3 linked regions of the Homo sapiens genome follow. The protein of the gene in region 1 purifies or fractionates together with the protein of each later gene. This does not show direct contact. Each region holds a gene or a part of one and is shown in the gene's direction. Other genes may lie near its edges.

The links.
Region 2: the proteins of ELMO2 (region 1) and CD226 purify together in Homo sapiens (co-immunoprecipitation; one large-scale study listed by IntAct). This does not show direct contact.
Region 3: the proteins of ELMO2 (region 1) and ANKRD22 purify together in Homo sapiens (co-immunoprecipitation; one large-scale study listed by IntAct). This does not show direct contact.

The regions. Positions count from the first base shown.
Region 1 is NC_000020.11:46,368,616-46,372,269, reverse strand, and holds part of ELMO2 (engulfment and cell motility protein 2), read left to right. Parts: intron 1-300; coding exon 301-464; intron 465-578; coding exon 579-691; intron 692-810; coding exon 811-918; intron 919-1,744; coding exon 1,745-1,827; intron 1,828-3,301; coding exon 3,302-3,379; intron 3,380-3,654. UniProt on the Homo sapiens protein: Involved in cytoskeletal rearrangements required for phagocytosis of apoptotic cells and cell motility. Acts in association with DOCK1 and CRK. Was initially proposed to be required in complex with DOCK1 to activate Rac Rho small GTPases.
Region 2 is NC_000018.10:69,941,318-69,944,971, reverse strand, and holds part of CD226 (CD226 antigen isoform a precursor), read left to right. Parts: intron 1-3,654.
Region 3 is NC_000010.11:88,824,203-88,827,856, reverse strand, and holds part of ANKRD22 (ankyrin repeat domain-containing protein 22), read left to right. Parts: intron 1-1,741; coding exon 1,742-1,819; intron 1,820-3,654.

The DNA.
Region 1 (3,654 bases):
GTGACTTGCTGAAGGGACAGAGTCAAGATGTGAACCCATTTCTTTCTGACTACAAAAATCCATGCTCATTTCCCCCACACCATTGACCAATTGAAATATATGGGAAATAAAGCATCTATCAGTGTCAGTCATGTGACCTGAATAACCATCTAAGAAGGTATACCTTACTCACCCAGCAGATGTCTGTAGTGCCTGCCCTGCTCAAGACCCTGGGGCAGGAAAGAGCCTTGGTGCTCCATAATAGGCCTGTCCATTTCTCAAGAGTAGTGGTGTGAGTTGGCTGGGTTCTTCTCCTCTTAGGTTATGCAAGTCGTCCGAGAGCAAATCACTCGAGCTTTGCCCTCCAAACCCAACTCTTTGGATCAGTTCAAGAGCAAATTGCGTAGCCTGAGTTACTCTGAGATTCTACGACTGCGCCAGTCTGAGAGGATGAGTCAGGATGACTTCCAGTCCCCGCCAATTGTGTAAGTTCCATCTCAGGGGAGGCTGGCGGGGGAGGTGGCTGCCAGCTCTGCTTTCCTTCCAGAGCTCCACTGTCCCCATGACCTTCCGCTCACTCCAGTGTGTGTCCACCCCAGGGAGCTGAGGGAGAAGATCCAGCCCGAGATCCTTGAGCTGATCAAGCAGCAGCGCCTGAACCGGCTCTGTGAGGGCAGCAGCTTCCGAAAGATTGGGAACCGCCGAAGGCAAGGTGAGAGGAGACGGGGCAATCCTTGGTGCCGGGAAGAGCCTGCCTGGATGGCCCCTTTTGTGCCCAGGCCTTTCCCAGTACTGTCGTTGCTCACCTGTTTGGCTTCCCTTGTGTTCCAGAACGGTTCTGGTACTGCCGGTTGGCACTGAACCACAAGGTCCTTCACTATGGTGACTTGGATGACAACCCACAAGGGGAGGTGACATTTGAATCCCTGCAGGAGAAAAGTAGGTTCATTTCTCTGTTGATGTGTCATGGTTGCTGGACTTGTCAGGAGACAGGAGTTCTAGTCCAGCTGTTTGTAGCTGATCATCTGGGCTTGTACCTGTTACCTCTCTGGACCTGTTTCCTTATCTGTCAGCGATTTCCTCTACCTGGCCTACTCGGTGGGGTGGTTTGGAGAAACAATGAGTTCACAGGTGTGAATGTATTGTGTAGACTGTAAAGGGTGGTACATGACTAAGTCGAAAGGCAGTAGTTAAGAGGAGAAGCTGTGAAGCCAGACTGCCCACATTCAAATCCTGGCTTTGCTCCTAATTAACTTGAATTCTAATTAATTGCAAGTTCTCCCCTCTGCCTTGGTTTCTTCTCCTGTAAAGTGGGAATAATAGCCACACTTTCCTCCTAAGAGGATTGCATGAGTAATGTATGCAAAGCACTTAGAAGAGTGGTTGGCAGGTAGTCAGCATAACTGTTAGCAGCTGCCACTGCTGTTGGCGATGATGGCATCATCATCGCCATTATTGTGAAGGAGAGGGGAAGGGAGTCACCAAGGTCCCGTTCCTTGGGGATATAAATCCAAGAGCCCTGAAGTGACCCTCAGTTAGCTTTGACACAGCCTCACTGGGCTGTGGTCTACAGGAGTGACCAAGACGGAGGGAACAGTACAAGGCCATCCTCCCCACCACCCTCACTGAGCTCATACAGCAGCCCTTGGAGTTTGGGGCTGAGGCTTCCTATGCATCTGCCCCAGTACCTCCCTTCCAGCACTGATGTAGGCACTGACCAGCTTGCAGCATGAACTTCCAGAGACTAATTCCCATCATTTATCAGTTCCTGTTGCAGACATTAAGGCCATTGTCACTGGGAAAGATTGTCCCCACATGAAAGAGAAAAGTGCTCTGAAACAGAACAAGGTGAGTAGAGAGGCCAGTTTGAGTAGCTGGCCCAGTGATACTTGGAGAGTGCCATTGGTGGTGGTTTTTTCCAGGTGCATTCTTGGCATCTTCCCCTCTCTATTCCTGAATGTTTTATTAAGAATTTTGAACATACACAAAAATAGATGGAACCTCTGTATACACATCACCCAGACTCAGCAACCATGGCCAGTTCTGCCCATCCACTTGTTTCTCTCCTTTATCGCTTTGAAGAAAGTCCCAAGTATCACACTGTTTCATCTGTAAATATTTAGTGTACATCGTATAGTGTATAACATTGCCACCAGTCCATTAGCACACATAACAGGAAATGAAAGTAGTTATTTCAGATCAAATATTCCACTGATGGTGACTTTCTACCAATTGTCTTATAAATGTCATAATTTCTCTACAGATATATAAATGTTTATATGGATACACACACACACACACACACACACACACACACACACACACACACCCCCATACCCATCTTGTCTAAACCAGAGTCTAAGACTGGTCTTTTAAGTTTCTTAATTCATAAGTTCCCCCGCCCCCCCATCCCCCACCATCTTTTCCTTTGCAGTTTATTAGCTGAAGAACCAGATTGCTTGTTTGGTAGTTTCCTAGCATCTGAATTTTGCTGATTGTTTCCCCGTGGTACAGTTTAACTTGTTCCTCTGTCCCAGATCTGTACATTGGAAGAGGGATCTAGAGGTTTGATCCAGTTCAGGTTTAACTTTTTTCCTGGCCAGTGTCATCAGTGGTATTATGTTCTATCAAGAGGCACATAACGTCTGGTGGTCTCTCCTTTTGTGATAATTAGCAGACTGTTGAAGCTCAGTGCCTCATTCCATCAGTCAACTAAGGTTTGCAAACTCATGATATTTTGATGCAGTCATTGCTTTTCATTTATGAGCTGAACCATGAAACTTGCCCTTATCTACTATTGGTTTCCCAGTGGTACAGTTTATATAGGAAACGAGAATAAATGCTGATTCTTCTTTTATGTACTTACTTTCAAAATAATGAGTTAGTTCCTTGGTATCATGCAACAGTGACCAATTTTGTGTGTGTGTGTGTTTTGTTTTGTTTTTTAATTGTTAAGACATTCCTATGCCAAATACAGCACGATAGAAGTTGTTAGTCATCTTGGTAATATAAAAACTTTTAGGATAACTTACAGTCATGGATCGTGACCTTCCAGGGTTCTGAGTGTTGAAAATGACTTTTTTCCAATCTTAAAAATATCACAACATCTTTGATGTGACTTGGGCAGGGAGTGGGTAAGTTAAGGTTGATTTATGCTGGGCCTCATCTCCAGCCACACTTGTGGCCGCCTAGGAGCATTGATGACATTCATCTGAATCAGCATGTTTGGTGATGATGCCGAGTCACTAGGACTTTGGCCAAGATCTTGATGTGCAGACCCCAGGCTGTTCCATCGCTCTAATTTAAACCCTTTCTCCTTCAGGAGGTGTTGGAATTGGCCTTCTCCATCCTGTATGACCCTGATGAGACCTTAAACTTCATCGCACCTAATAAATATGAGGTGAGCAGTGTGGCGCTGCCTTAGACAACAGAGCTATTTCTGTAACTCTTCAGTTGGTGGCAGGAATGAGCAAAACAGGAAAGTCCCCTGTGGTGGGTGGCTGCAGTGTATATTGAAGCCTAGGAAGGCTTTGAGAAGAAGGTGGCATTTCAATAGGATGGGAATGTCTCAAAGGAGGAGCTGTGGTTGGGGGGGCACCCAGATGAAGCAGCAGGTATCATTACATAATGCTGGACCTGAGGTTCCTCCAGGCGCATTGGGTGGCTGCCAAGGAT
Region 2 (3,654 bases), on another chromosome or scaffold:
ATAAGAAACATCTTCATATATTTAGTTTTCCCTTTCTCTTTAGGTGTAGCTAGGGTGAAGACTAATTTTGTGTATATAGCTGAGGCTTATAGAGTGTCAATTTACAATGTTTCTTTAGTTAAATGTTTATTTATTAAAGACTCTGTTTCACCATACAAGTCCTCATTTGCTGTTGTATGTAGACACCTGTTAAATCCTGCTTGGAAGTTTTTACTGTGTAGTTTGCTATAAATCAGTCAGGCAGGCGAAGTAGAAGATTGGCAAAGCTTTTAACATAGACTGAGCCATTGGAAACAAGGCCTGAGCCACCAAAGCTAGAACAGGATGCACTCCCCACTGCTGCCTTGTGTGGTATGCCTTTAAAGTTTGGGTTCCAAATTAGCTGTTTTGGTTTCTGTCACAGGACAACCAATTGAAAACAGCTCAACCTTTCAGGATAGAGGATGGAGCTAACCTGTAGAGAACTAAATGATGGTTGTTATGCAAAGGTAGGATTTTTAACATCACATATGAATAGTCTTCGGAATATTTCCTGTTGTTTTCATCCAGATTTGTCATTACTGCTAGTTTTTGAGGTTAGGAAAAGAGAGCTGTCACCTTCATGGGGCTTAAAAAAATACAATGTGGAGATTTTCAGTCAGTTTTCAGTCAGAGGAAGGAATACCGGCTGTCCGTCTAGTTTGAATTCTTCATGATGGTATCCTTAGCCATGATCCATTGCTCTTGTTTTGATTATTTGTATTTTAAAGAGCAGATTGATGCAATGGGCTAGTGAGGGCATTCTACCCTATTTTGAGAGTTTGAGAGCTTCACTTTTTTAAACTAAGAATGATAGTGAGTTTAAAAAATATTAGTTGTATTTCAAAATTAACCTTAGGTGTGCTTGAAATTTTCTTATGTACTTCAGTAACAACATACTGGGATTGCAAATATTGTACTTTTGTATACTGTAAAGGGGGAGTTGAAAATACATTAAATAGTAAAAAAAAAAAAAAAAAGACTTGGAATCTAGAAATCCTAGTTTGTATAATGGATTGTAAGAACTTCAGAAGGATGAAGGAGTTGGGCCCTATGCTCTGTAAATATGTTGATTTTTTGCTATTTATTGATAGCTTATTATGTGCGGAATTTTACATAGTCTGGATCTTCATAGACTTCCTCCTTGAATCTCCTGTGTGCACTTGAACGTTTGTATTGCCTGATTTTACAGATGATGACATTGAAGTGCAGTGAGGTCTAGTAGTCTTTCCAAGGCCCTAAGTTTCACGTATGTCCCAGCAGATAAAGTTGCAAATTGATGTAACTGTCAGCCTGGGGGACATGGGAACCCACCAGGGCCCTTGAAGAAGGAGACCTTGGCCTTTGTACCTCCTATCAATGCTACCCCTCTCCAGCTTTCAGCCTAGAGTTTAAGAGCAAACAGGACATCTTATTCTGAATAAATGGTACTACTAATACAAAGTTATTTGAAAATATGTGTTCTTTCCAGAACAGGCATTTCTTCATTAGCAATTGATTTAGAGACTCTGATGGTAAGAATAAATGCATTTGTTTTTACCTAGTTTGTGAGAAAATATGCAGAGATGACTTGGGGGACCACATTTTCCAGATAGCCCTTTCTAGCAGAGTTTGTGAGGTCATGGAGAAAACTACTGTCACCTACGTGTCTCTGGCTTTATTAGTCAGTTAAAGCAAATATAGTTGCATTTACAGAAATACCCCCAAAATGAGTGACCCACTCAGAATGCTCTGCCACCTAGTGTTTACTGGGTGCCTGCTCTGTAGGATGCAACTGCGTGTCATTTCATTTAATCCTTATGAAGCACTATGGGGAGGTAATATGTTCCCGTAATACAACAGAAGACACTGAGGTTCAGGGTGGTAGACTCACTTGTCCAAGGTTATCAAGCTGCCAAGTGGCAGCACCAGAATGACCCCAGTTGATTTTTCTGAAGAGCCAGAGATCTTAACTCCAGTGGAATGAACCAGGGAGGGCCATGGTAGAGAAAAGTCGTGCTGGACCTTGAAGAATTGGAAGGAATATTTTAATTAGAGAGGCCGGGGTCTGGGGAAGAGAGAAGACAGAGAGGGAAGGGTGTCCTGGGGGTACTGATGGCTTAAAGAAGGGCACAGTGGAGGTGTAAAGTTCATGTAAGAGGCAGAGCCTGGCCTTCTCTGACTAGGGCACTGGATTTGGATAAGATGTGGTTCTCACCCTGGGCTCTGAGGCCCCCTACACCCACAGAGGTGGCCTGAGAGGCAGCCTCCCAGGAAAGGAAGACACTGTGAGAGTGAGACTCTCTCCCTGCATGCACCAGCAAAGGGGCTCAGCTTATGATACTTTAGAGTTTCAGGAAAAGCTTTAGTACAGTAGATTCTGTGCTTGAAAAAGGAGTTGCAGCTCACTAGGGCAGCAGAATGTCAGAAATAAACCCGAAAAGTTATTGATGTGCCTAATGGAATTTTGACTTCTGTCTGTAATGCAGACCAGGGGACATCTCTGACTAGTTTTTAGAGAGACACACAAAATAAAACCAGATTTTTCTTTCACCACCTAAAAGATTACACTAGCTGCAGTCTTTTAGGAGAGTAAGAGTTTGCAGGCAAGGTAAGCAAATAGGCATCTGTAGATTGGAACCTTTACACACTGCTAGCAGGAGGATTAATTGGTATCTCTATTATTTTAGTCAGGCTTCTCCAGAGAAAGAGAACCAATGTGTATATACATGGAGATTTATTATAAGAAATTGGCTCACATGATGTATTAGTCTATTCTCACACTGCTGTGAAGAAATACTTAAGACTGGGTAATTTATAAGGGAAAGAGGTTTAATTGACTCACAGTTCAGTATGGCTGGGGAGGCCTCAGGAAACGTACAATCATGGTGAAAAGGGGAGCAAACATGTCCTTCTTCACATGGCAGCAGGAAGGAGAAGTGCAGAGTGAGGTGGGGGAAAAGCCCCTTATAAAACCATCAGATTTTGTGAGAATTCACTCACTGTCACCAGAACAGCATGAAGGTGACTGGCCCCATGATTCAGCTACCTCCCACCGGGTCCTTCCCACAATACATGGGGATTATGGGAACTACAAGATGAGATTTGGGTGGGGAAACAGCCAAATTATATCATTTTGCCCCTGGCCCCTCTGAAATCTCATGCCCTCACATTTCAAAATACAACCATACCCTCCCAACAGTCCCCCAAAGTCTTAACTCTTTCCAGCATTAACTGAAAGTCCACAGCCCAAAGTCTCATCTGAGACAAGGCAAGTACCTTCCGCCTATGAGCCTGTAAAATCAAAAGCAAGTTAGTTACTTCCTAGATAAAAGAGGGGTACAGGCATTGGATAAATACACCAATTCTAAATGAGAGAAATTGGCCAAAACAAAGGGGCTACTAGCTCCATGCAAGTCTGAAATCCTGTAGGGCAGTCATTAAAACTTCAAGTTCCAAAAATGATCTCCTTTGACTCCATGTCCCACATCCTGGGCATGCTGATGCAAGAGGTGGGCACCCATGGTCTTGGGCAGCTCCACCCCTCTGGCTATGCAGGGTACAGCCTCCCCTCTTGGCTGCTTTCACAGGCTGGTGTTGAGTGTCTGTGGCTTCTCCAGTTGCATGGTGCAAGCCGTCTGTGGATCAGATTCAGAT
Region 3 (3,654 bases), on another chromosome or scaffold:
ATGACTCAAGAGATGCATAATTTACTTTAATTAAATGACCAAGCTCCCTCCTTGTTGTAGCTCATAAACTGTGAATATTGGTTACACCTGTTAACATCAGCCGCAGAACAAGTCTGCCCGTCAAAAATGTTATTATTTCATTGGGTATTTAAATGCCACAGAATTTGAGGAACTATAATTAAACATGACAATGTTGATTTTTATATTTGGATTTATAGGAGAGAGAAAAGAACTTTAATTCACTAATAAAAATATAATCTGCTCATATCCTCGAAGAATTCTTTAAAAATTCATTATGTATTTAGCACATAGCATTTAAATACATGTATTTTGGGGGCAGGGAGAATCTGTTATTTATTTACAAACATTTTTAGAGATTCTAAAGGTAAAAATTACAACTGTGATTAGAAGGCTCATTCAGAATTTATTGACACACAACTCTGCTTTCTAAGATGGTTCAATGTTTAGAGGCTGGAGGACTGGGCAAAAATAGTAATCGTAATGAATAGCTCAACTCTAGTTTCATGCACGTGCAATTTATTAATGGGGCCTAAAGTTGTAAATTTGTGATGAATTAACAAATAAGTGACATGAGAGGAAATGATAGGGGAGGAGAGAGGAAAGCATTGGGTTATTTCAGAGAAAAGTAGGCAGAGAAAGGCAGTTTAGGAGGTGACACAAGAGGGAAGCCTAAGGAGAGAGAACTGGATGGAGCTTCCCAGGTGATGACAGGGTTGAACTCCAGGGCTATACCCAGCTGAGCAGGGAGAGCTTTGCCTCTTCAGGAGACTGGAAGTTGGGGAAGACTCCAACAGGCTTGTGGTCAGAAGCTCAGGAGACTGGGAAGGAAAAGTGAATTTCTGAGGAGTCCTAGTTCATTTCATTAATTTGTTCAATTCTTTAACGTATGTTTATTATGGACCTACTATGTGCCAGACGCTGTGCTAGCTGTTAGGGACACAATGATGAACAAAATAGGCATAGTTTTTTACCCCATGAGAGTTAGAGGGTGGTGGGGAGAGTCATTAATCAAATGGCACAAACACATGTAAAATTACCATAAAGCGGGTGATACAGAAAGGCGACTGGTGTTAGGATAGCTAAAAAAGAGGGATTTCACCTGGTCAGGTGGGTCAGGGAAAGCTTCTTAGAGAAAGAGGGACTTGGGCTGATGAATGAAAGGTGAATATGCCAGGCAAAGAAGAGAGGGAGGAGGCTTCTAGGCAGAAGGAACTTCCTGTGCAATGATTCTCTGAGAATGAAAGATTAACAAAGGCCAATGTAAGTAGAACAGAGTGAGCCAGGAGGCGCAGAGTGAGAGAGAGGCCAGGGCAGGGCCATACGTGGAGCCAAAACATACGGGGCTTTGTAGGTCATGCTGAAGAGTTTACTTTTGTCCTCAGAGCAATGGGAAGTAATTGCACAGCTTTGAGCCAGGAAGGGAAAGACAGGTACTAGGCCCCATCCTCAGTGGAATTAGGTAGGTTTGGGGTGGGACCTGAGAAGTACATTTCTAAGGTTCTTAGGTGTCAGTGCCGCTACTTCAGGACCACAGTCTGAGAACCTGGCTTTAATTAATTGATATTAGAGTGAGTGAGAAGCTGGGGGAAATTTTAGGAAGGGTGCATGCATGCATAGGAGTGTTGGGATTAAAATGAAGCCTATTGATTAAATAGTCTCAGGCATAAATTGGAGAAACTATTTGTAAATAAGCCTTTCTTATAATTACCATTTGTAATAGGTATCAAAGACAAAGCAGAATGAGGCTCTTGTACGAATGCTACTTGATGCTGGCGTCGAAGTTAATGCTACAGATTGTGTAAGTTTATACTTTTAGCCATTTTGAAAAAATATTCAAAATGGTATTTGTAGGTAGCGTATTTGTCATCTGTACAGTTGCTTTATTTTCCTAGACAATTTTACATTTAGTTTTCTTTTATTTTCTCCTTTTTTTTCCCACTGACAGGCAACCTTGAGGTTATTTATATTCTGCTGAACTCATGGGAATAATACCTCTATTGATTATAAAGCATTTTTAAAATAATTGGCTTTAATGTTGTTGAGACGTTAAGGAAAACTAAGGCTCCGATAACAAAATACCAGCCATAATAGTTAAGAAGCTGGAGTGAGAATGCCCATGAGTAAACTCTGGGCTTGCCACTTTTTACTTCTATGAGTTTGAGCAAGTTGTAAACTTATTTTACTTTCAGTGTCCTCATCGGTAAAATGGGGATATGGATAATACTTATCTCATTGGGCTTGTTCATGTAAAGCACTTAGCACATGCTCAGAATGTAGTAAGTGCTCATTGAATGGCAACAGCTGCCACTGCAGCCAAAATCCCAACCCACTGATGAGAGGCCCCGTGTGCAAACTACAGATAAATAAGACAAAGGTCAAAGAAAAATCCCACTGATGGTAAGAGCAGTGATAACAACAGTAGCAGCATCCGCTCACTTCTTCCTGTTTATGAGCATAAGGTGTTGTTTTCACTTTCACCTCTGTGCTCTTGCACTCATCTTTCTTTCTCAATGATCACAGAAAGACAAAAGTTTATTTCTATGGTGTTTTGCTTATGGTGATTGAATAAAATTTTGGATTCCCAGTTCCTTATTGAAAAAGTAGGCAAGTGGAAATTTGATTCCAAAATACTAACATTCTATTTGTGATGCCTAACATATTTTACGTGTGTGCACATCTGTGTGTATTACCATTGTTTTATGATAGAGACCATGGCCCCATTCCTGTTTCTATCAATTATTTACATCATTTCGGTTTTGCCTATGCTGGTATCATGTTTAAATGCAGGCAGTTGTGTGTGTGTGTGTGTGTGTGTGTGTGTGTGAGAGAGAGAGAGAGAGAGAGAGAGAGCAAAAGAAAATAACTTTATGAAATTTATATTCCCTTTTATTTCAAATAGAACTTTTGGATAAATTTGTATTGACAGTTACTGTGCATTACCATTTCTTTAGATAGCTTTGAAATATATTAAGTAAGAGATTATTAAAGATGAAGTTAAAAGTTTGTTGAAGGTTTTTCTTGGTCTTTTCATTTAAATTCAATAGATTTAATATTCCTGCCTGTGACCAAAATTTCTCTAGGATATTTTCTCAGCAATTTATGTGTATTTCTCTCTCTAGATAGAGATATTGCATTCCTTCAGCTAGGCACAGTGACACTAGCCTGTAGTCCCAGCTACTTGGAAGGCTGAGATGGGAGGATCCCTTGAACTCAGGAGTTTGAGACACATGCAGGTACACACACAGACACCACTTCTAATACCAAAATTTTTTCAAAAACTATCTGAGTATTAAAATCTACTTTCTAGGTAAGACAGTGTTTTGTATTTTTGGATAATTAGACTCTATTTCACATGACAAAATTCAGAGCCAGAACTTCCATTTGTCATGCCACCACTTAATAAAAATAAATAATTGCAACATGATCTCCTATAATTTTAGAGGTGTTTCTAGGGAATGGGATCCAGAGCTAAACCTGTCTTGATAGCCAAAGGTACTATTTCTTCACTCACCAGCACCATGGTTGCTTGGCTACTTTTCCAAAGGCCAAATTTTGGACACTAATGCCCTAGCTATAATTTTTTTGACCTGTAGTGTTTTAAATTAGTACCAACAGAGTAGATGCACTAGCTTA